Regions from separate parts of the Homo sapiens genome. Here regions 1, 3, 4 and 5 are each linked to region 2. The links come from fine-mapping of genetic effects on gene expression. A gene starts in region 2. Each other region holds a variant in brackets. All regions are shown on one strand. Distances are from middle to middle.

Region 1 (5,105 bases), 41 kb before region 2:
CCCCAGGCTGGTTCAGATCCTCCTGTTCCACACTTACAAAACACCCTATAATTTTTCATTACACTAATGTCATAAATGTATGTAATTATAAAATGTCTGCTTCTTCCACTGAACTGGAAGCCACAAGAGTGCAGGAACCACAACTGCCTAGTTCAAAAGATGTGGAGCATCTTCACATAACAAGTGCTCAACGGTATTTGTTAAAGGTTGAGTATCTGTCACTGCCTACAACCCCATACAATGAACATAAGCTAATATAATAAAATACTGTAAAGGCATAAGTTTTTTCCAACACTTTAAAACACTGTATAAAAAAAAGCATACTAGGTAAAAATTGATAATGCGAAACCATCGCCACCACCCGTTTCCAGAACTTTTCATCCTGCAAAACAATGTGAATGTGCTTAATGTTACTGAACTGTATGCTTAAAAATGTGTGAAATAAAATTGTAAATAAAACTGCAAGCTCTCCAGATGAGATGCACTCCCTGTGGCTAATATACCCACATTTAGACAATGGGTCCAAGCGGCCATAGCAGAGTGAGAGAAGAGTGGTCACCACCCTTCGTTCTTGGAAATCACGGCTCTTGATTAAGAACTGTTCTTAAGCCAGAACAGTTCCTGTGACTGGGGCCAAGAAGAATTGCAGCAGAAACCTCCCCTGCACCAGCCTTTCGAAGGAACATCTGACAGAGACACTTCTGGCACCAGATTAGGGTTCAATCTGAACCGAACAAGCTTGAATCCTTCGTTTGCACAGACCTCACAGAGAATGAGGGCAAGAACTTTCCCTACTTAAGCCAAGCCCCTTTTTTTTTCTCTTTAGAGCAACATTTTCACTAGTGAAAACTATGCCTCCCCAGTCTGCAAGTTTTTTCTATAGAAAATAAAGCTCTCCATTTTTTCCTCCACAGATCTCATCATCTTTTGATAACAAATGGTTAAAATGGTAAACTTTTATGTTATGTATACTTTACCACAATTGAAAATAAATTACTTTTTTAAATGTAAAAAAACTGATACATGGAAACACTTCTTACTGAAAAGAAAAATTACACGAAACCTTCACAAATAGGTTGTGTAATTTTGAAACCAAATTTCCCTATCACATGTAGAGCATCCCAGCTGAGTTTCATCAGTGCAGCCTGGGGATCTGTAACATTTAATTAATACAGTCCACGGAAGACACTTTGCTATATTTAATTATAAAGTCCCCTTTACAAAAATACCTACTATCCATTTGAGGAATATACTATAGACCCGGAAACTAAACTAATCTATCATTGATTTACAGGAAGATTTGCAATCAACTAAATACTCAGTTGTTTACAAAATAAGACATTTTCAAATACTATTTATAAGCAGTTGTACCTCAACTTAACAATTTCTACAAACTCTCCATTGGATACACCACACCCTGTCCCCACACCTCGAGAGTGCTTTTCAGTGCATCTAATTAAATAAATGAATGCCTGAAGATAGCAACAATGAATTTATATCTATTTATCTGAGCTAGAACCTCTTTTCCTTTGTACAGGTTCCAATTCAGATGAATGACTCAGATATAAATCCACCACTGCCATCTCCAGACAGCATTCTGTCTTCCTAAAAGATGCCTACTAAACTTTTCCCTTTGCTACTCCAACTTGGCAGCTGCCACTGAGCAGCAGCAGGAACAAGCAGCAAAGGAAGCAATCCCAAGTGGGGTGAGTGACTGGCTATAGCCAGAGTGCCAGAGCCAGCAAAACAATGCCTCGACTTGCTAAGTAGGGCAAGTCAGGTATCAAGTGGGTAACTTGGATAAATTGATGCTTGAAATTGAGCAAAAACACAATTTTGAGATCTGACATTTTTCTCTGGTTTTTGTGGACTTCAATAAATTTAGCACAAAAAAAGGATGGCACAGTGAGTTCATATTTCAAAAGCTCTCTCTACTTCAAATGTACAACAATGACAATAAAACCCAGAAAGGAAAACTAAGAAAACAGGTAAGCAGAAATAAATGGTAAACATTTCACAAACTCAAAACAGGAGAAAAACGCATAACAATGCTAACCACTGGCTGGTTCCTCAGAAGCAGGAAGTGCCAAATGCAAAGTACAGATGGCGAGAATGTTCTCACAAGACTGAGAAGAGAGCCAGAGCCACTGGTGAAGACCAGGCCAAAGAGGAACTGCCCTTGGCCTGAAGAGGAGGCCACCAAGTATTGTCTGCAACTACAGCTCACTACAACTCCTGGAGACTGTGGACCTAGGGAGGCAGAACCACAGCTTCAGGGTCAAAATCTGAACAAGCTGCTGGGACTAATCTGCCATGTGTCCAAACTATCACCATAAGACCTGGATGTAGATTAGGAATCCAAAATGCCGGCGGGGGGGCACCCACAAAACTACTGGTCAGGGAGAAGGTGGGAGGCAGCAATGGCCGGGGTGAGAGAGAAACTAGGAAAGAGAGAGGAAGAGGAAGGTCAAGGAAGCAAAGGGAAGGGAGAAGATGAAGCATGAAGAGCAATAAACATTTTTAACTTTCACCAGAAAAAAGAGCCTATGAAC[T/C]AAAATTCCAAAACAGAGTAAGAAAGCATTCGCTATCAAACAAAACTTCAGAAACTGAAACAGTTCACATTAGATAAACTGCCCCAGATGAAATTAATTTTATCAGTCTAAAAGATTAAAAGATTCACTAGAAGATTTTAAAAGACCTTGCTAAAGAAGCAATAACGAAGTGAAGATAGGTGACTAGATTCCAAAATTATTTATGAAAAGGACTTGCTCATAAATTGGAAATGAGAAATGAAAGAAAGAATGATGGTGAACATAAATTCCTACATCTTGTGCTTCTGCAGGAGGATTCAGATACAAGAAGCCCGAAGGATCAAAGTTCAGTTTGGGTAATGCTGGGTTTGAGGTAGTGGTAAAACATTCAACTAGAGACGTCACAGAGAGAGAGAAAACAGAGTTGGAGTCTAGGGTTGATTAAAACCACAGAAACAGAAGTGGAAGAGAATGCCATCTTTCAGGGTAAGGGTAGAGAAAGTACAAAAAATAAAACAATTTTAAGAAGAGCCCACCAATCAAACCTTGAGTGATTCCTGTAGAGGGGACACAGAGGAGGGCCACAGAAGTAGAGAGAAAACTAGGAGATTAAAATGGCACCAAAGCCAGAGGATGAGAGTGTCTGAAAAAGGGTAATAGTGTTAAAAGATTCTGGGAAGTCAAACAGAAGAGGACTGAAAAATGTCCACTGGACTTAACATGAGAAAACTGGTGGTCACACTAGCAAGAACTCTATAGTAGAGTACTGAGGACAGAAGCAGACTGGGGTGACTCAGAGCCTTTGCGCACGCGGTCTTGTCTGCCTAGCTGGCTGACTCCTTCTCATCCATCATTCTCAGCTTACATTTTACCCCTCAGCAAGACTTTCCCTGAGCACCCTATTACTGAAGGGAACCATGATTCTCTCTCAACAACTTGTTTCCCTCATAACACTTATCACAATTTGTAATTATTTATGTTTTATTTCTCTATACCCATCTCTAAAGCAGCAATCCTATCACTTCCAGTCACTCTTCTAGTTCCAGTACCTATCATAGTACCCAGCCTCCAACAGGCACTAATAAAAACTCTGCCTTCAAAGTAATAAACTTCACTTCGTTTTGTGGTGGGAGGGGACTTTTCCTCATACTTAGTATGAGAAGCAACATGCACAGTGGAAACAGTACAACTTAGAAGTTACACATAATTTGAATCTCAGCTCCACTACTTACTAGCCCAGTGATCTTTGGCAACCCGAAGATTGGCTTTATACTTGAAGCCCCAATTTTCTCAATTTAAAACAGTAACAGTAATTCAATCCTTATGTAATTATGTGCTTTTCCAGTACACCATAGATTCTGAATGAGTGAGAGGCATTATTTGGAATAATCATGTCCTTTCCCTCCACTAAGGAGTCTGAATGAGGGAGGCTGTAAAAATGAGTTAAGTCATGGCCTTAGAAACACTGGAACATAGAATAAGGTAAACTGTATATCAAATCTTTTTTTTTGTTTTTTGTTTTTTGAGACGGAGTCTAGCTCTGTCGCCCAGGCTGAAGTGCAGTGGCGCGATCTCGGCTCAGTGCAAGCTCTGCTTCTCAGGTTCACGCCATTCTCCTGCCTCAGCCTCCCGAGAAGCTGGGACTACACGCACCCACCACCACGCCCGGCTAACTTTTTGTATTTTTAGTAGAGACGGGGTTTCACTGTGTTAGCCAGGATGGTCTCGATCTCCTGACCTCATGATCCGCCTGCCTCGGCCTCCCAAAGTGCTGGGATTACGGGCGTGAGCCACCACGCCCGGCCCTCAAATCTTTTATTATATGTATGCTTTTTCAGTAAGATAGGACTTCTGATCCTTCCCAAATAGCTGCTTAGAGAAAAATAAATCCATGATTAGGTGCTTTTTCATAACAGCAGGTACTAATTACACTGAAATACATAAATTCCCTTTAAAACCATGTTGTTTAAGTTTACCAGAAATTATAAAATAAACAAAACCAAAAAGATATATTAATACAATATTTCACTTTTTTCTTAATTTAAAATTTTAGTATAAGTAAAAAGTAACTTCAGTATAAGTTATTAACAAAAAATTCAGAAAGTCTTAAGACATCTCCTTAACGTTTTATAAAAGAAAATATCCACAAGTCACTTCCCACAGATTAAAAAAAGCTGGATGGTTTTATTGAATTTAAATAGCAAGGTACATGAACATACAAATGAATAAGTCATACATGAAGATACTGATATAAATCCTGCCCAAATATAATTTTTGCCTGACTGCTAAATAAAGTCATAGTCCATCTTGACTGGAATGACTAGTTTACCTTTAACTCCGGGTGGCTTAAGCTATCAGTCCTTTAAGAAGCTTTACTGGTTTTTGACAATTTAACCTGCTGAGCTCACAGCACCCATGGGAGGGTCTTGGTTGCAAGTTTTACTTCTGATGCTGCTGACCACTAATACTGACTCCATTGATAATGGATTTCAATAACAGCCATCCACAGGTTAACACTGAGTATTACCCATAACACTGCTTTAATTAAGTTAATACATGAAAGTCACAGTTTGG
Region 2 (5,105 bases):
CAATGTCTTCCCACTGCTCTAAGACAAACACCAAACCTCATAATGTGATCTATAAGAGCCAGATGGTCTGACTCCTGCCAGCTTCCCCAACACCATCTACTCTCTGCATCAGAGCCTCTGTAGGCTTTTTTCAGTTCTTCTAACCTGTCATTCCCTCTGGCCACAGGACCTTTGCATACACTGCTCTCTCACCTATAACATTCATCTCTGTTTGTTAGAAAAGGTCACTTCATCCTTCAAAACTTGTCTCAATTTTCAGTTCCAAAGGAAAACACTCCCTTACCGTAGATAGCATAGTATGATTAAGAGCACAGGTTCTGGAGTTCTAAATCCTGTTTGCCACTTATTGGCACTATAGCTTCGAGCAAGTCACATTAACACTCAGTGCCTCACTTTCATCTTCTGTAAATGGGGGACATACGACTGTTGTGAGATTGAATAAATTAGTTCAAGCAAAGCAACAGAACAGTATCTAGAACACAGAATTCAAAATCTTGGCTTGGTCAAATCCCTCTATTTTATTTTCTTATAGCACCCGGGCATCTCCCCTAATACCATTTTACACTTGTTACAGTCTCCCTACTAGAGTAAAATTTCTAAGAAAGCAGAAACCATATTCATTCCCCAGAAGTGGAAGACAGGAGATATTCAGTAAATATTTGTTGAAAAAAATAGCTACAAGGACGAAGCTGACGCCCAAGGAAGAGACCTGTCCAATATACAAAGCCTCATGCGCCTGACCCCAAAGCCCACACTTTACACCATACTAACTTGCCTCCTATGTAAATGCATAAGTCTTACAGCTGCAATTGAAGTGGCCAACACAGATGAACAGAATGATAAAGATTAAAGAACACTAAACTGTATGGGAACACAGAAAACAGTGAAAGTCCGCACGCTGAATTGGACACAAAACAAACATAGGTGCCACTCACTTCCATGTCGATAAGCTCCAGCTCTCATACTGCCCACCTGGGGCTCGGTTCCCTCCTCTTTAAAGAGTAGGATGGGGCAGGTCGTCTCTAAAGTGTCTTCAACGTCTAAAATTAAATGACTATAAATCAAGTTATGTGGCAATGTTTTAATAATTATTTTTTAAAAGGAAGTTTAACAAGCACACTGAACCAGCTGACAGATGGTTTTCAGGGGACCTTCATTTTAAAGAATGTGTTCAAGTGCCTCAACAAACCTTATAAAGTAGGTTAGGTGGTCTGTGCCCCAGAATTAACGACAGACTCGACATTGACTGGAGACAGAGCTCAGAAGCACACACAAGCACTCCAACCTGTTTGTCAATCTGCCATCATGACAGCCTAGGTATACAGAACAGTCATGAAATGTGTTTAGAACAGTGCCAAAATCAGGCTCACCACTATACCGAAAAGGAAAGTAAGTTCACGGGATGCATTTGGTACACAGTAGACTGGGGTGTCATACAATTAAAACAGGCTTTCAAATGAAACGTAAAATCTATTGGCAGTCCTGACATGGTATAATACTTTAAAAGATAAGACAAACTCACAACCCTAACACTACTTAAGCAACAGTTCACAGTGTCCCTTCAAAAATGCTGGAAAGAGGCAACAGAACACGGAAACTATAAGGACACCTAAAAAGACACCCTGGAAAGCTTAAGACAAAGCCAATGCCGCGGGGCCCTGGAAGCAGACCTCGAGCAATATGCCTGCCCAAAGCCATCAGCCGCCTCGGAGGGCGTGCGGGCACCCAACTGCCTCTGCCCTAGGCCTCTCTGCTCCGCAGGATCCCCGCGAGGAACAGCTGCAACGAGGGATGCCTCCTGAGCCCGCTGCCACGCGAACTCCGGGAGGGAGGAAAGCAAGCGGTGTAGCTGATGCGGAACCGGGGCGCGGGGGCAGCCGGACCCAGCCAGCGCTCTCCCGGCGCCAGCCGCCCAGAGGCGGCACGGCTAGAAGCCCAGTGAAGCCCGGACCCGCGAGGCCCCGTTGCTCCTCACCTTCAGGGTCCGCAGCGCCGCGCTCAGCATCAGCTGCTGCGGCGGCCACCGCCCACGCCGTCCGGCAGCGACCAGCGGTGCTGTCCCGACCCAGAACCCCGCCATTGTTGTCCCCGCAGACCGCCCCTCTGCTGACCTCTCACACAGCCGGAGGGGGTGGAGAAGGGGAGCGCAGGAGCTCCGGCAAATCACGAGCCAGAAACCCGATGCCCCGCCCCCTAACTTGCGGAAAGGGGAGGGTGAGTGGTCGGCCAGATCCGCCGGATCCGGGATCCGGGAGTCGCGCTAGGACCTGGAGGGCTAGTCGGCGGGCTGCGCGTCCGGCCGCTAGCTGAGCTGGAGGCCACCGGCCAGAGCCGACCCCAGGAGTGAGAGAGACAGGGGCGTGCGTGAGTTCCGGCGGCCTGCACCGGGCAAACCCCGTACCTTCCCAGCATCGGCTCAGCAACCCACGTGCATCCAGGCCGGTCAATGTCATTGAGTCACCTCCGCGCCTTGGCCACCCTGGAGTCCCGAGAATCCGAAGTTCCAGACAAATGCCCAAACTACATTCCTGCATGTTCGAAAGCGTAAATTGCAAAGCACAAATCCAGGTAAGGTTTTTAACGACTGTAATAACACATAAAAAGTTCTAGGTCTGGAAATCAGAGATCCGAGCTCAAGTCCTACCTCTGGCACTTAATATGTGTGTGTGAAAGAAATTAGCCACAACTAGAGTCAGTCTTTGTTGCTCGCAAGCAGAAACCCTTGTTAGTACAACTACTGGCCAGGCGCAGTGGCTCACGCCTGTAATCCCAGCACTCTGGGAGGCCGAGGCGGGAGGATAACCTGAGGTCAGGAGTTGGAGACCAGCCTGGACAACATGCCGAAACCCCGTCTCTACTAAAAAATACAAAAATTAGCTGGGCGTGGTGGCGCACTCCTGTAATCCCAGTTACTCGGGAGGAGGCTGAGGCAGGAGAATTGCTTGAACCCTGGAGGTGGAGGTTGCAGTGAGCCGGATCATGCCACTACACTCCAGCCTGGGTGACAGAGCAAACTCCGTTTCGAAAAATAAAATAAAAATTAGTACAACTATTAAGGGCCGGGCCGTGTGCTAGAGCCTCAGATTCCCTCTTACTTGAGAGTTTACAAGAACCTTAATGGAGTATATATTATTTCCATTTGGAGAAACTGAAGCTGTAGCAGGGTAAAGTCACTCAGCGAGTAAAAGGTCAAACTAGGGTTTGAACCCAAATCTGGCTGCCTTGAGGGACTGGGCTCATGTTTTGCTATATTATGGAAATTTTAAAATATATACAAAAGAGATAAAATTGTACTATGATCACCCAGATACCCATTACACCGCGTCAATGAATCAACATTTTGTCAATCTTGTTTCATCTATTCCCCTTTTTATTTTGTGCAGGAATATTTTAAAGCAAATCTAAGACATCAGACCACCTCACCTATAAACACATCAGTATTGGGGGTTCTCCTCTTAACTACTTTGCATCTCCTGCAGAGTCACCTTGAGAGAGTTACAAAGCTAGGAATGGCCTAGAGTACACTACAGCATGGTAAATGCCCAAAGAGAGAGAAATAAAATGGGGATATCAGAAAGGTGACATTTAATGGAATTTTAGAATGTAAGTAGGGACTTTTGTGACAAAATGAAAAGGATTATCAATTTTACAGGACTTCTCACTTATGTACCTCAGTCTTCATTCATTTTCTACCTGGGAAACTTGCTTTTCTTTTTTCTTTTGTTTTTTGTCTTTTCCCCATGTTTTACCCTTTGGATTAGTTTTCCTTAGGCCCTGTTTGTTTTTCTTATAGGAGTTCTTTTTATGAAAGGCACTTGTAGCAGAAACTGCTTCTCATGCTATCCATTCTCCATGCATTACTTTAGTAAGAGTGCCCCTGAGATCTAGCTGGGTACATGGCCACCCAGCGAAAGGCTGCAATAGCTAGCCTCCCTTACAACGAGGTGTAGCGCCATGACTAAGGTCTGGAATGTAAGGACTGTGCCCTCCATGCCCTCTTCTTTCTTACCTAAACAAAGATCTACATTTCCCAACTCCCACTGCAGCAAGGGTGCTTACCAAGATTTGGTTACTAAGTTTTGGCCAATGGGACATAAGCACAAGTGACATAGACAACTTTTGGGTTATACCTTTAAAGGGAAAGGCTTGCTTTCCACTTGCCCTTCTCCTCTTTCCAGTTTGCCAGAATGTGGACACTACAGTGGAGGTAAAGTTGTCATCTCAGATGATAAGAAGGAAGTTAGGTGATCGGGGAGACAAAACAATATACCAGGAGCCTTTAGTGCCTGATTCTGTGGAGCCGCCACGTCAACCCTGGAGTGCTTTGTTCAGATTTTTATGCAAGCAAGAAAAATACTGTATCTTGTTTAAGTTATTGCATTGTGTTTTTTTGTTTTGCCTTTGTTACAGCAGCTACATGTGTGTCCTTACTGATAGAGGACTAATATTTATCTTTGCCTTTTCCATTTGAAGTTGTAGATTGTGGCCGGGAGCAGTGGCTCACGCCTATAATCCCAGCACTTTGGGAGGCCGAGGCGGACAGATCACGAGGTCAGCACTTCGAGACCAGCATGGCCAACATGGTGAAGCCCCATCTCTACTAAAAATACAAACATTAGCCAGGCATGGTGGTAGGCCCCTGTAATCCCAGCTACTCGGTAGGCTGAGGCAGGAGAATCACTTGAACCCGGGAGGCAGAGGTTTCAGTGAGCTGAGACTGCACCATTGCACTCCAGCCTGGGCGACAGACCAAGACTCCATCTCAAAAAAAAAAAAAAAAAAGTTATAGATTGTAAGGAAAATACCCCCAAGGAAGTTGAGGACACAGCAGACTTGGACTGTCTCCAAACCTGTTCATTCTTCTGAGTGCACTGCTCGGAGCATCCTATTGGGCAGCATATCCTGGCCTCCTTTCCAGTTCGATGTGGTACTATACCTGATTTCTGGCCAATAAAATATGAGAGGACATGAAATTCAACAGCCCCTGGGCTTGGCTTATAAAACCTTCCATGCAATCCTCCACACCTTTTCACCTCTCAGCTGCTGAGACTTTTCTAGGCACTACACAGAAGCAGCCTGGGTCTCCAGTAGCAAAGGAGAGCAGA
Region 3 (5,088 bases), 440 kb before region 2:
TCAACTCGGTGCACGGCTCTTGCTTCTGCTTCCCAGCAAAGTCTGAAATGTATTCCAAGGATTTCAGAACCAAATGAAAATGCAGCTGCTGTGATCTTTAGTAACCTCATTCTCTGTTGGGAGAGCTCACTTACTCTTCAACTTAATGGCAGACTGTGATCGCTAACTGCATCTGGCACAAAAACATGATCATTATTTTTAGCTTCTTTTGCTTAATTGGAAACTTGCTTCACAAAAAACACAAAAAGGCTACGCTGGGTCTCAGCTGATGAGCTCGTGGCGGCCCTGTGCTTGATGAGGGCGGTGAGGCAGCCCAAGCTCCTTGTGACTGCCCTGGCTTGTGCAATGGGGAAGGGACCAGGCAGCGCGCTCATCCTCAAAACAAACAAAAACAGTGGAGACAGCACCCCCGGCCAACCAGGAAGCTTCAGGGTGACCTCCAGGGGAGTCAGCCACCAACAGTACACCCACATAGAGACACAGCAGGAAAGGGATTGCCAAAATCTGCATTTGCAGTCTCTGGTCCTTAGGAAGTTTTGAAAATCAGCACCAGGAGTGAGGGCCTCACTTCTAGAAGTAGTAAGGCAATCAGATGAAAAAATGGCAAGTGCTAATTTAATAAAGCAAGGCAGAGAACTGACTGACATTTATATCAATCTCTTAAAAGGATCACAAAGAAATGCTGGTAGTCTACTGGCAGAGCCTGTCGCCTATGTGTACATTGTCTTCATTCAAAGAAAGGGCAAACTAATATTTAGACAAATGCTCAGTTTTATTGATTTAATTTTGACACTAGGGAATCTCACAGCAGAAGTACAAATCATATGTACAAGTATTTATATCAATGAAAATTTCCATTGGTGATTTTTTGGCAGAATATTGGTCTTGACTCTGTGGAATAAATGACGACGTAAACGTAGCTGCACAGGGGTGTTCCTGTATAATGCTTGAATCAATTGTGTGTGAAAGCATCATGCAAATGGCTAATTAAATTGGGTGATGACTGAAAGGTTATAAATCCTTCATTCCAGCTCCACGAGCAGATCCCCTTCTCCAACTGTGTCTCCAGCTTGACAGTGCACAGATTTCACCTTGAATTTTGAAAAATGCAGGGGGAGGGGAGAGTAAGAATTAGTAACCAGAACCAAGAGGCGGCAGGCTCCTAATCCATTTCTAAAAATGCACAGTCCTGCAAGCTCAGCAGCACAGGGACAAGCCACCCCACCCCACCGGAGCCCATCGAAGGGACCCTGGTGAACAGGGAGGCGCCATGGTGGCCGTGGCCGTGGCTCACTCCTCCCCTTTCCCGTCTCCTCTGTCCTCGGCACCCTCACAGTGGCTGGCCTGAGGGCTACTCTCCGGAGCATTTGCGCTGTGGCCTGCGCTCTGGCACCCTCAGGTCTAGGCAGGCTCTTCACTGCCAGGTGAGTTCTAACCCCTAGCCTCCCTCTCTGTGGTTTTGAGGTTGTGGAAATGTTCTCTGAGAATTAATGGAATACTTAGTGTAAAAGAAAAAAAGGAACAAAACACACGACAGTCAGATCAGCTGCTGAGTAAGAGGAGGACCTCCCTGGCCTGACCTCCATTTTCTGAAGGGAAATGGAGTCCTTGGCAGGTGGGGCTGTGCGGTCGCCCTTTCCAGCACCATGGGTGGGTGGAACTGTGCCTTTTTGTCCTACCGGTTTCAGTCAATCTTTATCAAGTTTTGCTTTCCGAAATTTGTGTTCTGACTTAAAATTAGCAAGGAGGGGCTTGAGGTGGGGAAGAGACAGTCATTTGACTTCTTGGAGGCTCTTGCTTGGGCCTGAAAATGAAAAATGGATTAGAACTCATCGGCCACTGCAGATGCTGCTTGGACTGAAAAGGCTGCTTTCCACAATGCTCCTGCCTCCATTTAGCAGCCCTACTAGAGGA[C/T]GCAGTGTTAGTGATGCAGCGATGACCAGAGTAGAGGATCTGTTTCCTTTGTGAACTTTTTTTCTCTGGGAGGAAAAGTGGCCTCGCAGGTAGGAACCAGGGCCTGCTACTTTGCACGGGGGCTTCGGGCCACTTCTGCTCTTCTTGGCTGGGTTGGAACTGAGAGGCCTGGGGATGGGGTGAGGTGAACAGAATGCACAGGAAGACTCCAACTAGGAGGGCCGAGGGAGACCCAGGCCACGAGGACAGGAAACCTACTACCACATGGCACCATGCCCCTTCAGGGAACTGATGAGGCCAAGGTCATTTCTGCATTAGCACCTCAGACCTGCCGCACAGGGCCCTTGGCATGCGGCGGACACACGTTCTCGGTCCCCCACACCTAGGCCAAGTTCTCATCATGGATGGATGTCGTGATACTAGGGCAGCACAAATGTTAAATCCCAAAGAACAGATAAAATTTTTACATGAACAGAAACCAACATTTTCTTGTTCACTTTTTAAAGAAGTAATTTAGAAAGAATTCCTTAAAAACGCCACAAATCATGTCATTCTACTCTTCACACCATACCAGCACAGTGCAACTGTCCACACCCCTCCAGACCGGCGGGCTGGGCTCAGGAGCCCCTGGCATACACCTGGGCCTCTGTTCTCCCAGCCGGGACCAGGCATGACATCCCCGCTGCCCCTTCTCTGAGAATCCATTTCATTGCCTTCTGCAGTGACAGAGCATGAGACAGAGGTTGTGTGTCTCTCTGATGCAAACCTGGTTATGAACTGATGGATCTCTCTTTGCACCTGATGTCCCCAAGGCATGGCCACATGCAGAACACGGCCAGCCTTGCGCTTCCCATCATGCTCTCCCATGCAGACACTTCCAAACCACAACGGCCCTCACAAAAGGATCATTTACCTACTAACGGCATCTTTTCAGTCTTTTTAGTCACAGGAAGAATAATGAAGTTACTGCTTAAAAGGACTTTTCTATCTTCAAGAAAAAAATACACTTAAGTTTCACTATGAATGAATTTCAGTACTAATATTTTTTTCTCCCTAAATAATTAAGTCCCACATGTACATGGGGTTTTGGCTTCTCTTGATCTGCAACTGAATTGTTCCCTTTGTAGAGAAATTGTCTTGAAGAGTTACATTAATTTTTGCAATTTGTAAAACCATTTGCTGCTGTGTCACCTAAGTCTCAGATAACTAACTGCCTTCAAGACAGATGTAAACATTAAAAATTAAAGACCCCTTAATTTGAAAGAAAGACATTAAGGTGAAGAACAATTGTTCTTTGACTACCTGAACATAAAGCACAGACTTTTTGGAAGCCACGCTCTCTACGAGGCAGGGATGCATCAGGGCAGAATGGCAAAAGCTCCCAATCCTAACGTCCTCCTCTGTAGAAGCGAGGGGGAGAGGGCGCCTCTGTGGCCCTTTCCAGCCAAACCACCCACGATTCAAAGGTGGGCGTTCCTCCATCACAGGGCCGGCCTGGGCTGATGGGGACTTAGGGACTCACCGTGCCAGTTTTCCCAGCTGTCATACTATTCTGCATTTTCATGGCTTCAATCACACAAATTTCTTGACCTTCTGCTACCTGGAAAACAAAAATGGGCAGAAGTTTTAAAAGCATTCTAATTTTGCATTAACACTTAGGAATGAAGCCATTAAGAAATTCTTTGTCAAATGCCCCAAAATATGTGTCTATGAACAGCAGCAACAATCTCTAATGTTTCCTATTCCAAGCTCATCTTTAGGAACAGTAGAGAAAAGCCATTCTCTCTCTCATAAAGTCCTCGTTGGAAAAAAAAAAAATCCCTGACCCTGGAGAAGTGGGGACCCTGGCGGCGGGGCCTACCCTGGGGATCTCTGAGTCTGGCTCTGCCACTAACAGAGGTGTTCGGAAATTGGAATGTTTTCCACTTACCTGAAATGTCCAGAATAGGCAGATCTCTACAGACAGACTCGAGGTTGCCTGGGGTTGAAGAGGGAAGGGGAGTCACTGCTGAAGGGTACAGGGTTTCTTTTGAGAGTGATAAAAATGTTCCAAAATTGATTGTGGTGACAACTACACAACTCTGAATTGACTGAAACCACCGAATCGTACACGTTAAAGGGCTAAATTGTATGTGAATTACATCTCAGTATAGCTGTTACCAAAAAAAAAAAACCACCACCAAATATACATATTTCTGTCTATAGTCCCGGGGAACTGGGAACAGCTCGGCCCTGGCGCCACGAGGACCACTGTCCCATCCTCTGCAAGACACAGCGAGTACCCACAACAAGGCACAAGGCAGCTTCCGGAAAACCCTCCAGACACAGGAATGACTTCCAGAGCTACATGCATTCCATGCTAGGAGACTGGGAGCGCCCACGGGCCTTTGCTCAGACTGCGTTCAGAACTTGCCTTTCATCCTGAGGGGCAGCCAGGCTGAGCTGGGTTAAGCCCACTGGCGTTAAGCGTGAGGCTTCCCTGCAGGAGTGAGCTGCAGCTGAAAACCATGCTGCGCACTCACTTCGCTCTGCCCCGATGGGTCAGCGTCCTGAGCCGGCCAGGTTTTTCTTTGGCCTCCCAGTCTTTGAAACGGGCAAGTCCAGGTTCCTAGGGCAATGGCTATGTGGTGTGGGTGGGTGTCCTGGCATGGGGCTCCTGGCCCCTCACACCACTGTGGCCATATTCGTCCAATGCCTCAGAAGCGCCTAGAGAATGTTCTTTCCTGAAATCCCCAGATGATCTCCAAGTCCCCCTCTGGCCCCCCCGTGTGGCGCAAGCTGTCTTGCTGGCACTCTGGAGCGCCTGAGCCGATGTACTCTTTTCCTCTGCTGTTCAGGTGGTGGGCTGCTTCTTCCTGGCATAGAAATATAGGAAGAGAGACGATGCCAAGGCTTTGGCGCTGGCACGGAGGAGAGACACCGCGCTGAGGAGCTGGGCCTGGAAGCGCTGCCCGCGCTGCCCTTTTTGATTCATTTTCACGTGGCATCTGCATTCCAGGGAGAGCGAAGAATCAGCCTCGAGGGCTGTTTGCAGGGGGATGGGAGGGGCAGCGCAGAGACAATGCAGAGGCCCCCATCAGGGGTGTCAGAACAGTCACTCCCTCCAGTTGGCATTTTACAGCCTTTTTTCTCTCTTCAAAGGCAGGCAAAGACCAGGGAATCCAGGAGCAGGTC
Region 4 (5,105 bases), 90 kb before region 2:
AGCACAATGGGATAGGAAAATTTTTCAATAAATATATGATAAAGAACAAAATGCTGTTAACCCATTAAACATCCCAGCTCTCTTCTTGCCATAACACATACCCCACCAACACTTTTAGACAGAAATTCTTCCAAAAATATATCTCCCAATTCTGGATTTCTCTGCCATTCTCTCAGATCTGCCTTATTCTGTAAGTCAGCTTTACCCTCAGGCTAGCTACCCTCATGGTCACAATATGGCTGCCAGCAGCAACTAAGCTCTCTCATTCACAAGGTGGTGGGTGGGGGAGAATGCAAGAGAACCTGGCTTCCAATGTCTTTCTCTTAAGAATAAGGAGGTTCCTTTTCCAGGAATCCCAGGAAAGCCTTTCATCATGTTTCAGTGGCCCACAATGGCTTAAGCCTTGATTAATCCCTGAATCAATAATTGTCAGGGAAGATAAAATGATCCTGACTGGCTTCCACAAATCACCTGTGGTGGAAAGGATGTTGGCAAAGCAAACTTCACTGGAATTTGAGTATTTGTGTGCAAACATAAGCCCATATACAAGGATGCCAATATACATGCATTCATTTAAGCATTTGTGCAACGTAACCTCACCTACTAGCCAGACAGAAAGTCAAAGAAGCGTATTAGTAATTAATACCAGGGGAAAGAAATCGGAGGAGACAAAATCAGAGGAGAAAGAAATCAGAAGAGAGTGGCCACCTTAAACTGGAATACCACATACATACAACCTCTGTATCCACACCTACCCCCTAACTCTAACTGTTCTTAGGACCTGAATGGTCAATGGTTCCCATGGGTTGTCTTATGGGGCTGTTTTTCAATACTGAATAATCCAGCCTGAGGAAAATAAACCATTGTGGGAAGAGGAATCTTGGATCTTGGTATTAGATTAACCCCAATAGGCAAGAATGGGGTTTACGGAAAAGCAAATGATTTGCAAAGTATAAATTAGAAGATAGCTTTGTTTTCACAGAGAGCTATGATGCTAAGAACAGCAGGACAAATTAAGGAGTGAGGACGTCTACAGGTGGATGCCCAAGAGAATTTAACTTCTTCTAGGGCACTGTTTCTTCTTTAAATTTTTCTGCTCCTATGTAGCAAAGTGTTCTTAATCACATAGTTCTTCAGTCTGATATGCACTGTTGTTACAGTGATACAGAAGTGCATCACATTAGGTCAGAAGTGATACAGAAGTGCACCACATGCTTAAAACTCCTCCAGCAGCTCCCCAATGCACTCAGACCTAAATCCCAGCTTCTTAGAATGACCCTAACTGATCTGCCCTGAGCCACCTACCCTTTCAACCTCATCTTGTACCACGTGTTTTCTCATTCATGATTCTCCTGCCACACCAGTTCCTTTCTCTATATCCAATCTCTATATTCTATGTCTCAAATCTCATTCCAGCCTCAGAACATTTAAACCTGCTATTCCCTCTGCCTGGAGAGCTCTTACTCTAGATCTCCAAGTGCTGGCTGCTTCTCTCATCATCAGTTATTAGTCAAATGTCACAACCTTCTTGGCACCACCACCATTCATGACCACCACACACACACGTACACACACACACAAACACACACACACACAGACAGGAAAATAAACCATTGTGGGAAGAGGATGACCCTTCTGTAGATGTCTGCCTTGGGTCAGGCACTAATCCTTGATCCAATCAATTGTCAATAGATGACAGGATCACATGATAAAGAAAGCATGGTAATTTAAACAATTTAAGGAGCTGCATGCAAAGAGGCAAACAGAAGCAAGACTATAGGTAGCAAGTCAAGTATTCATGACCAAACTGAGCTGAAAACGCAGAAATGATTAACAAGCGGGTCTACCATGACCTCACTTCCCTAAAAGATCACGACAGCATTGAAGGGCAAAAAAGTGGCAGATTATTACCCCAATTCAATACTAGCTGTACATTTTAG[T/A]CTTTTTTTTCCAGTAAAATGCAGAAATCATCTGTTTCTCTTATGCCTTAAAACCCAGCAGGCATGAAGGGTGGCATGAAAGTCATTTTGAGCACCTCTAAGGGAGTATACATTTGTGTTAATATTATTCGTCAGTATGTAAGGTATGTTTATTATAAGATCAAAATTATTTATGGAAGCAATACTTAATTGTGTTAGGGTATGTCAAGGTACAAATACTTAACTTTATTATTCTATAAAATTCAAGATTAAAAAAGCCCATCCAAACAAGCACAAATATATATATATATATATTTTTTTTTTTTTTTTGAGAAGGAGTCTCGCTCTGTCACCCAGGCTGGAGTGCAGTGGCACGATCTCGGCTCACTGCAAGCTCCACCTCCCGGGTTCATGCCATTCTCCTGCCTCAGCCTCCCGAGTAGCTGGGATTACAGGCGCCTGCCACCACGCCCAGCTAATATTTTGTATTTTTAGTAGAGATGGGGTTTCACAGTGTTAGCCAAGATGGTCTCGATCTCCTGACCTTGTGATCCGCCCGCCTCAGCCTCCCAAAGTGCTGGGATTACAGGCATGAGCCACCGCGCCCGGCCCACACATTTTAATTAATTAAAAAAATGTGGCTAAATCTTGTGTCTAAATTATTTTTTTTTAATAAACAGGCATTAAAACAGGATCAAAGAAAGAAAAATATTACAGAAAACAGTAATTCTGTATCTCCGTCCCCACCCTCCGCAAATAAAATCTTAGTATTTGCCAGAGGAAATGCTGCCTGAACCTCCTATCCTTCTAAATTTGGTGCATCTTAAGAGATTCTGTGTCAGCAATTGAAGCCAGTGCTGAAGCACAACTACAGCAGACCACTCTCAAAATTCTTAAAAACCCATTTGGGATTTGTCAGTAGGGGGTAAATTAAAGCCTTATGGATTGAGAAGCAAATAATTTGAAAAATGTACAGGGGCAATGAACCCTGAAGTTATCAGGCATCAAAATGACTATAAAAGTGTTTTGTATAGTTTACCTAAAAAGACCTAAATTTTCTATTTTTCAACTATTTTCTAAACATGTGTAAGACTGCTAAACTTGGCCCTGGGGTTTAAGATACAAGTTACCAAATGTATCTAAAACTATTAGATCATTTGCCTAAGCATCTTTTCTACGTTTTAAGTTGAAATAAAATCTACCCAACATCGAAATAACCATACAGGGTAGATTTCCTGAATCAAATTAAATAATCCACTGATTTTCTATAGCAAAAGTACACGACTACATAAAATATTTATCACATATTCATAAGTGGAGAGCAAAAAAGAAACCCTGAATTAAATTGAAGTCTGGGAATACTGAAAAACTCATCCCAGAAATGTTGCTATAAGTCCTAACCACCTTCAATTCAGAATTCTACCTCTACTACTACATAGAACTGTTATAACAGGGAAAAGAGAAACTTCACTTTCATATTAATGATTATCAAAAAAAAAAGATCTCCTTCACAGTTGAATTTTTAAAGACATACTTTATATAGTCTACTTAGTGCCATGTTCTAATTTTTAGTAACTAGAAAATTGAAACATAATCAGTATGATGGGAATATTTTCTTTGGTCTTTTTTAGTTCTGAGAATGTTTGAAGACTTGAGTTATTTTTACATGGACTACTTGAAGGTGATGATTTTTTTCGTCCTTATGTTTTACATCTTAAAATGTTTTATAAATGGTAAAAACAGAAATAATCCATTTTCTTTTTCAACAGGGGGCCCAGGCAAGACTTCCTTTGCCAAGATTCAAACAGATACTCCCTTCTCAACACAGGATGAATGTGTATAACAGAATAAAACTTAAAGCTCACGTTTAGATTTTTTTCAGTTTTTTACTAAAAAGAATCTAATATGTTTACTAAATAATAGACAACAGAAACATGAATTCTACATTGCCATCTATGACCCTTAGTCTAATAGACCAAGTCTTATTAAAACTAGTAAAATTTTCATTATGCAAGACACAATTTGTCAGTAATTGAAAAAGGTCTACAAAATTAACAAATAAATACTACTCTGACACTAGAAAGCTGGCAATGATGATATAAGCTTTAGTCTTCTCATAATCAGAACTCTGGAAGATTAATCAACATTTTAACACTTCCCATCTGTACAACTGCTCAAGGTAGTGCTTACTGTCACTTGACAAGTTGCTTAGCATTGCAAAATTTGATAATTCATGTCTTACTGAATTTTTACTGACTTGGAAGAAAATAAAACACCAATTAAAAGCAGATGTCACCTTTAATTCTAACTGGCTGAGAAACTTAATTTTTTCACCCAATGCAGTGATAGGACGCATGTAGATGACAGCTTGGACAGTTAAACACTCAAAGTCACTGATATCCCTCACAAATTTGCAAGCGATTTACCAGAACTTAATCCCACAGGGCTTTTATCTGGCAAGCATCCAAAAACAACAGTTTCAAGTAGTCATCTAGAAGGTAAATTTACATTTTTTACAAAGGCTACAAACACTAATCAGAACATTACTAAACTAATATTCTCAAGACTTGCATTTTTATCCTCATACACATAAACATTTTCCATGTTGCTCCTCTGTTAAAACTCTACCTAATTAAAAAAACTAATATAAAGACTTAAACTGTGACTAACATGCCTTTATATTTAAATGATCCAAGTGCTAAATCACATCTAACTGGATTTACAGTAAAATAATAAAAATCGGACTTGAGTCCTGACATTTGTCAATGTTTTTCAATAATGTAAGTCATAAATTCACTCACTTTTGATTCTAACCACCAATTCTGAACAAATTCTCTTAAGCTGCAAGTTTTGACTAGCACCACAAAGATAAATAAGTAGACAGATACATGGGTAGATGTATCATACAAACACACAGAAACAGCAATATCAAAACGTACCTTCTTGCAATAAACCCAAATTTTTATACACATGTAAATAATTAAACTTAAAATGTATAAAGAATTATAACATTTTCTTCTAAAAACAGCTAGGCCTGAGTTTTCTAAAGCTACACCATCTATGCATGAAGTAACTTGTAATCAAATCCCAAGTTCCAAAAATGCTTCATTTTAATATATGAAGTTTTTCTACAAAAAGAAAATTTCTGGATTTTCCCAAACACCACAATTTCAGAGTCCTGTCTCT
Region 5 (5,105 bases), 390 kb before region 2:
GAGAAACTCCTCTTACAATTGACCTAAGCAATAACTCAACTCTAGAAATGCTCACCACACATGTGCTGACTGGTTTGTAAGTAGCTGTTATAATATGGTTGTGCTATCTGCGTTCAATTTCAACATGGATCCAGAAACCTTGCCTAGAAACTTGCAGAGCACCTTGCCCCATCAGCAGGGCTGCCACAGCTAAGTGGTTCTAGGCAAACACTCAAAGAGGCAAAATATGGGAGAGAAAGAGATGGCTTAGCTAGCCAGTGCTTTAAAGAACAAAGTAGCTGATAGAGAAACACAGGCCCAATCCATGCACCCTTTCCACTGTCATTAAAGCAATGGGGTGGGAACAGCTTTTCTCTTCTACACCCATTCACTCCCTTCCTCCTCTTCAGCCCTGTCCCCCTCTGTTTAGACTGCTAAATATTAAAGCAATCCTTCCCCTCTGATTTTAAACTCATTTCATATGAGAGAGAGAGAGAGGGCAGGAAGGGAGGGAGAGTCAGTGAGAGGAATGTGGAAACGGAAGACAAAACCAGTGTGAAATTTAAGTCGTCTCAGGCCTATATTTCTAAGAACAGCCCTAGGTCCTATCAGTGCATCAAACAGGGAGCAATAAAAACCAAACCAGTCACCACCAGAACTTGCAAAAGAGTTCACAGCAGTGGCTCCTACCGAGGTGCTCACCAGAAGCACTGGGCAGCTAATTCAAAATGGGTGTGAAGCAGCTGCCCAGGTGACTGGCTCCACCCAGACCCTAAATGCTGTTGAGTTAAGATTTATAGTGGAAAAAACAATGGTTTCTTTCAGAGCTCCATTAGTTTCTTCTGAGTTCTAGCTGTCTATTTGATATGTGTTAATATCTGGAAGAAACTGGTATCAATAGTGGACTCTCAAATTCTACATATGCCAAATATATCTACAGGGGGGAAAAAAGAAAAATTCAAACATCTCTAATGCTCTTTCTGTAACTTCAGTCCAGCTTTTATCTCAGAGATCCTGAACGTGTTGTTTAGAAGTCTAGAATGGGAGTGCAGAGGCGACCAGAACACATCAAAAACTTGAGGTGCAGTCTGATGAGTTTCTCTACTCCCTGCTTAGTAAATTTAGAGTTTTCTATTTTTGGAGGACGTAATCCCTATGCACACTGCTTTTAGCATCTAAGCATTTTCCTCAAGATGGGTCAAAGTGTCAAGGGTTTCACGAGAGCCTCTGTCAATTCCTGCAGAACACGGTGGATCTGCTAAAGACTTAAAATAGGGACACAGTCCTTACAGTTTCAGCTTAAGGATCATAAACACAAACGACCACCTGAGACCACAGAGGACCGGATATGAGCTACTTATAGTCATACTGAGCCGGAGAACAAGAATAGCAGGAAAGCGGCCAGTTTTCTTGTAGTGAGGTTCTTTGAAGTAAAGTATTTATTAAACATTATATTATAGTGCATGAAACAAAAATCTTTGAAGGCAGGTTATCCTACTCTGCACAGTGGCCACTGCTAACGAATTACTTCCTTTTCCTCTCAGGTTTTGTTTTTCTATTTGTGAAACTGAAACCCAGATTGTTTTCCTCCATCCATGAAACCAGCTGGCACAAAGCACTCCTTCTGGTAATAATGTCCCATCAATGGAAACAGCATTAAAAACGATTCCAACCCATCACTTCACCATCACACACAAGAGGATGTGCAGATTAGGGAGGTGCTCTCTAAATATTGGTCAGCAACTTCTCTAAAATAGAAAACCAGGCTGTTAAAAATGATAAAATGACTAGAAATGGCAACAATTAAAATGGGGCTTCCATTTTTATTTAAAAGCAAAATTTACCGATTGCATTTCTCACTTCCTAACTCTAGACTGATACGCCTTATTTCAGCTAGCACTTTCTATTTCTCAATAAAGTACCCCAGATATACCAGTAAGAGCCTCATCTTAAAGAAATGTCCAAAAGAAGACCAAGAGGGCGGTATAGTTTATTCTTCTGAACCAATTATTAACTTAAGAGTCTTTGCCTGGGGAAGGAGTACTGAGCAGC[A/G]GAACTCCCAATGAGCCAGCACAAACGGTCACATGCTGAAGATGCAATGGAAGAATCCTGGCCCATTGGCCAAAAGGTGTCTCCGGCTAAGTGTGTGCTGAGAGGAGAAAAGGACAGCGCCGGACACATGGCTGGGTCTGTTTCAACGTGGCTGAGAACAGTGGGAAGCTTTTTAAAATCTGGGAATACATCAAAGGGCTAATGCAGATTAAGCCCAGCTCCTTTTTTTTTTTTCCCTGAAAGGCTCACTTTTGTTCCTAATAGAAAGACTTAGATGGTATTTCTTCAGATCATAAAGCAAGTTGTACTTTTAATGATGGAATAAAAATTATAAAAGTAAAACGTGGCTTTTCCTCCCCATTCTTTTTTTCCTTTTTTAAGTGATGAATTCAGGAAAAGACCAGTCTAGGCCAAATTTATCTCTTGTTAACCTTCAGGGATATGGAGTACGCCAAGTATGTTAGTACAAAGTCAAATTTGGATGATGTAGTCATTTTTTGCTAATTCCATTATTAGAAACATTAGATAATATGGTAGTATCTAAGGAATACAGCTTTAAAAATAGTATGCACCTTCACTATCAAGACTGTAAGGCAAAATCAACTTGTGCCCACGACTGAACTTTTGAAATAGAAAATTTTGTTATATCCATGTTAGCCAGGCTGGTCTTGAACTCCTGACCTCAAATGATCCGCCCGCCCCGACCTCCCAAAGTGCTGGGATTACAGGCGTGAGCCACTGCACCCGTGGCATGCACCTGTAATCCCAGCAACTCGGGAGGCTGAGGCAGGAGAATCGCTTGAACCCAGGAGGTGGAGGTTTCAGTGAGCTGAGACTGCACCATTGCATTTCAGCTTGGGGAACGAGCGAACGCTCTCTCAAAACAAACAAACAAAAAACCAAAACAAAAAACCTTGTTATGTCAATAAGAGTATTTCTAAGTGGGTTAGCAGCTCCCTGACAGGCTACCTCTCCAGCCTTCCCAGGCCCACCCATCCTTGGTTCCCTCTCTAGCCTCACAAGACAGCGCTCTTCTCATCACACTCAGGCATTTCACTGGAGCCCCTGATCTCGCTTTGCCCTCCTCTCTTGGAGCCTGCCTCATCAACTGTCCTCTCTTCCCTCTCTATTGGCCCCTTCTCTTCATCCTGAAAGTCAACCTGAGTCATTCCAATCAACAAATTCTCTCTCGACTCTGCATCCCTCCTGGCTACTGCCTTCTGACCTGACCCATGTTCTCCACACAGTCCTCTGCTCTAGCTGCTGCAACCACACTTGCACTCACGACCAAACCAGCCCTACGTGGCTATCGCCACCACTGTTCTTCCTAACTGACAAGCTGTCTCAGGTACCCACAGGTTAGATATTTCAGGGGAAATGACTGTTACAGAAATGTTCATGTTAGAATGAAGAAACAGATCAATACACATCAATCATATTAAAAAGGTGCTTCTAAGACAAAGCATATATTATTTTTATTATTCATATTCAATATTTTAGGAATTAAAGCAACGATGTTTCTGCAAATTTATGGTTTTGAATTGATGGTACGTTGTAATAATGCATAGATAGGGTCTGCCTGAGCTTTCACCCCAGGAACTGTAAACTTTATATTACAGTAGTCCCCCCTTATCCAAGGTTTTAGCTTTCCAAGGTTTCATTTACCTGTGGTCAACCATGGTCCAGAAACATTATATGGAAAATTCCAGAAATAAACAATGTATAAGTTTTAAATTGTGAGTCATTCTGAGTAGTGTGAGGAGATCTTGTGCTGTCCTGCTCCATCCTGCCTGGGTCATAAACCCTCTCTCTCGGGGTCCAGCATCTCCACGCTGTAGACACCCCCACCACCAACCAGTCACTTAGTGGCCATCTCAGTTACCAGATCTACTGTCAGGGGGTCTCAGTGCTTAGGTTCCTTTTTTATTTTTGAGACAGAGGCTGGCTCTGTCGCCCAGGCTGGAGTGCAGTGGCATGATCTTGGCTCGCTGTAACCTCCACCTCCTGGGCTTAAGCCATGCTCCCACCTCAGCCTGCCGAGTAGCTGGGACTACAGGTATGTGCCACCGTGACCGGTGAATTTTTGTGTTTTTTGTAGAGGCAGAGTTTTGCCATGTTGCCCAGGCTAGTCTCAAACTCCCGAGCTCAAGTGATCCACCTGCCTTGGACTCCCAAAATGCTGGGATTACAGGTGTGAGCCACTGTGCCTGGCAGGAACTATTATTTGACTTCACAATGGCCTCAAAGTTCCAAGAGTATGATGCTGGCAATCTGGATATGCCAAAAACCAGCCATGAAGTCCTTCCTTTAGTTAAAAGGTGAAAGTTCTCAAGAAAAAAAAAAGTATGCTGAGATTGCTAAGATCTACAGTAAGAATCAATCTTCTATCCATGAAATTGTGAAAAAGGACAAAGAAATTTGTGCTAGTTTTGCTGCTGTACCTAAAACTACAAAAGTTACAGCCACAGTGTGGGCTAAGTGCCGAGCTGAAATGGAAAAGGCATTAAAGGCAAGCGTATACAGGGTTCGGTCCCATCCGCAGTCTTAGGCATCCCCTGGGGATTTTGACATGGATCCCCCGTGGAGAAGGGGGGCTACTGTACAGTACACTTCCCTTCAGCAAGCCGCATATTCAAGTTCTCTATTTCAGATTCCCCTTCGTGACTGTCATGCAGGAAGCAAAGAAAACCCATTGTGTCCAAGGAAATTTTTACTTTCTCTAGGGATTCAGAAACCTGACTTTCTGATACTCAGAAACTCAGTGCGCATGGGTGAGAAGGCTCGGTAGGGAAGAGGTGCTTTGTAGCTCAGGATCTGCTGGAGCTGAGGGCGTTTTTTGGTTTAATCTAGTTTCACTGTGTGTTTCATGGAGAGGTTCCTCTAGGAACAAAAGGTTCTATGGAAGTCACGTCCTTTATCCCTCTTAGCCATCCCTGTGTCTGCCTTAGCCAACCTCCCATTTGTAAAAAGAAAGCAGAGACCAGGCTATGGCTGAATAGTTTCAGACAGCCCCTATACCACTGTCAGCCTTTGCAAAGTGTAATGCTTTAATTACAAGGGTCACACAAGGTCTT

Direction of the effects. Alleles are on the strand shown, and positions count from the first base shown. SD is a standard deviation of normalised expression in the study named. Not every link is listed here.
For the expression in monocytes of the gene that starts at base 2,108 in region 2, allele C in region 1 goes with a higher level than allele T (large effect, 1.0 SD a copy in Quach 2016).

Evidence for each region.
Region 1: its variant is fine-mapped to the expression of PCCA in monocytes (Quach 2016, PIP 0.95).
Region 3: its variant is fine-mapped to the expression of PCCA in lung (TOPMed, PIP above 0.99).
Region 4: its variant is fine-mapped to the expression of PCCA in whole blood (TOPMed, PIP 0.94).
Region 5: its variant is fine-mapped to the expression of PCCA in whole blood (TOPMed, PIP 0.96).

What each region holds. Positions count from the first base shown.
Region 1 is chr13:100,126,842-100,131,946 of GRCh38, reverse strand. The region is part of intron 4 of PCCA (propionyl-CoA carboxylase subunit alpha); the gene reads right to left. Among named protein-coding and RNA genes, the nearest start is that of PCCA, 40 kb to the right of the region's middle. RefSeq lists enhancers at 1,860-2,360, 2,361-2,861. The variant T/C (reference allele first, on the strand shown) is at 2,553.
Region 2 is chr13:100,086,096-100,091,200 of GRCh38, reverse strand. It overlaps PCCA (propionyl-CoA carboxylase subunit alpha), which reads right to left and starts at 2,108. Exons shown (of 24, transcript NM_000282.4): 1 at 1,976-2,108. The coding sequence starts at 2,080. It overlaps PCCA-DT (PCCA divergent transcript), which reads left to right and starts at 2,258. Exons shown (of 2, transcript NR_132422.1): 1 at 2,258-2,568; 2 at 4,474-5,105. RefSeq lists a silencer at 1,779-1,958 and enhancers at 2,239-2,498, 2,529-2,578.
Region 3 is chr13:100,526,101-100,531,188 of GRCh38, reverse strand. It overlaps PCCA (propionyl-CoA carboxylase subunit alpha), which reads right to left. Exons shown (of 24, transcript NM_000282.4): 23 at 3,437-3,514; 24 at 754-1,091. The coding sequence ends at 1,023. GGACT (gamma-glutamylamine cyclotransferase) reads left to right here. Exons shown (of 3, transcript NM_001195087.2): 3 at 1-1,009. Among named protein-coding and RNA genes, the nearest start is that of PCCA-AS1, 48 kb to the right of the region's middle. RefSeq lists an enhancer at 1-820. The variant C/T (reference allele first, on the strand shown) is at 1,915.
Region 4 is chr13:100,176,221-100,181,325 of GRCh38, reverse strand. The region is part of intron 6 of PCCA (propionyl-CoA carboxylase subunit alpha); the gene reads right to left. Among named protein-coding and RNA genes, the nearest start is that of PCCA, 90 kb to the right of the region's middle. The variant T/A (reference allele first, on the strand shown) is at 1,941.
Region 5 is chr13:100,480,415-100,485,519 of GRCh38, reverse strand. All of the region lies in intron 21 of PCCA (propionyl-CoA carboxylase subunit alpha), which reads right to left. PCCA-AS1 (PCCA antisense RNA 1) reads left to right here and starts at 4,505. Exons shown (of 5, transcript NR_047686.1): 1 at 4,505-4,540. It overlaps LOC107984574 (a long non-coding RNA gene), which reads left to right and starts at 4,313. Exons shown (of 3, transcript XR_007063850.1): 1 at 4,313-4,400; 2 at 5,090-5,105. The variant A/G (reference allele first, on the strand shown) is at 2,032.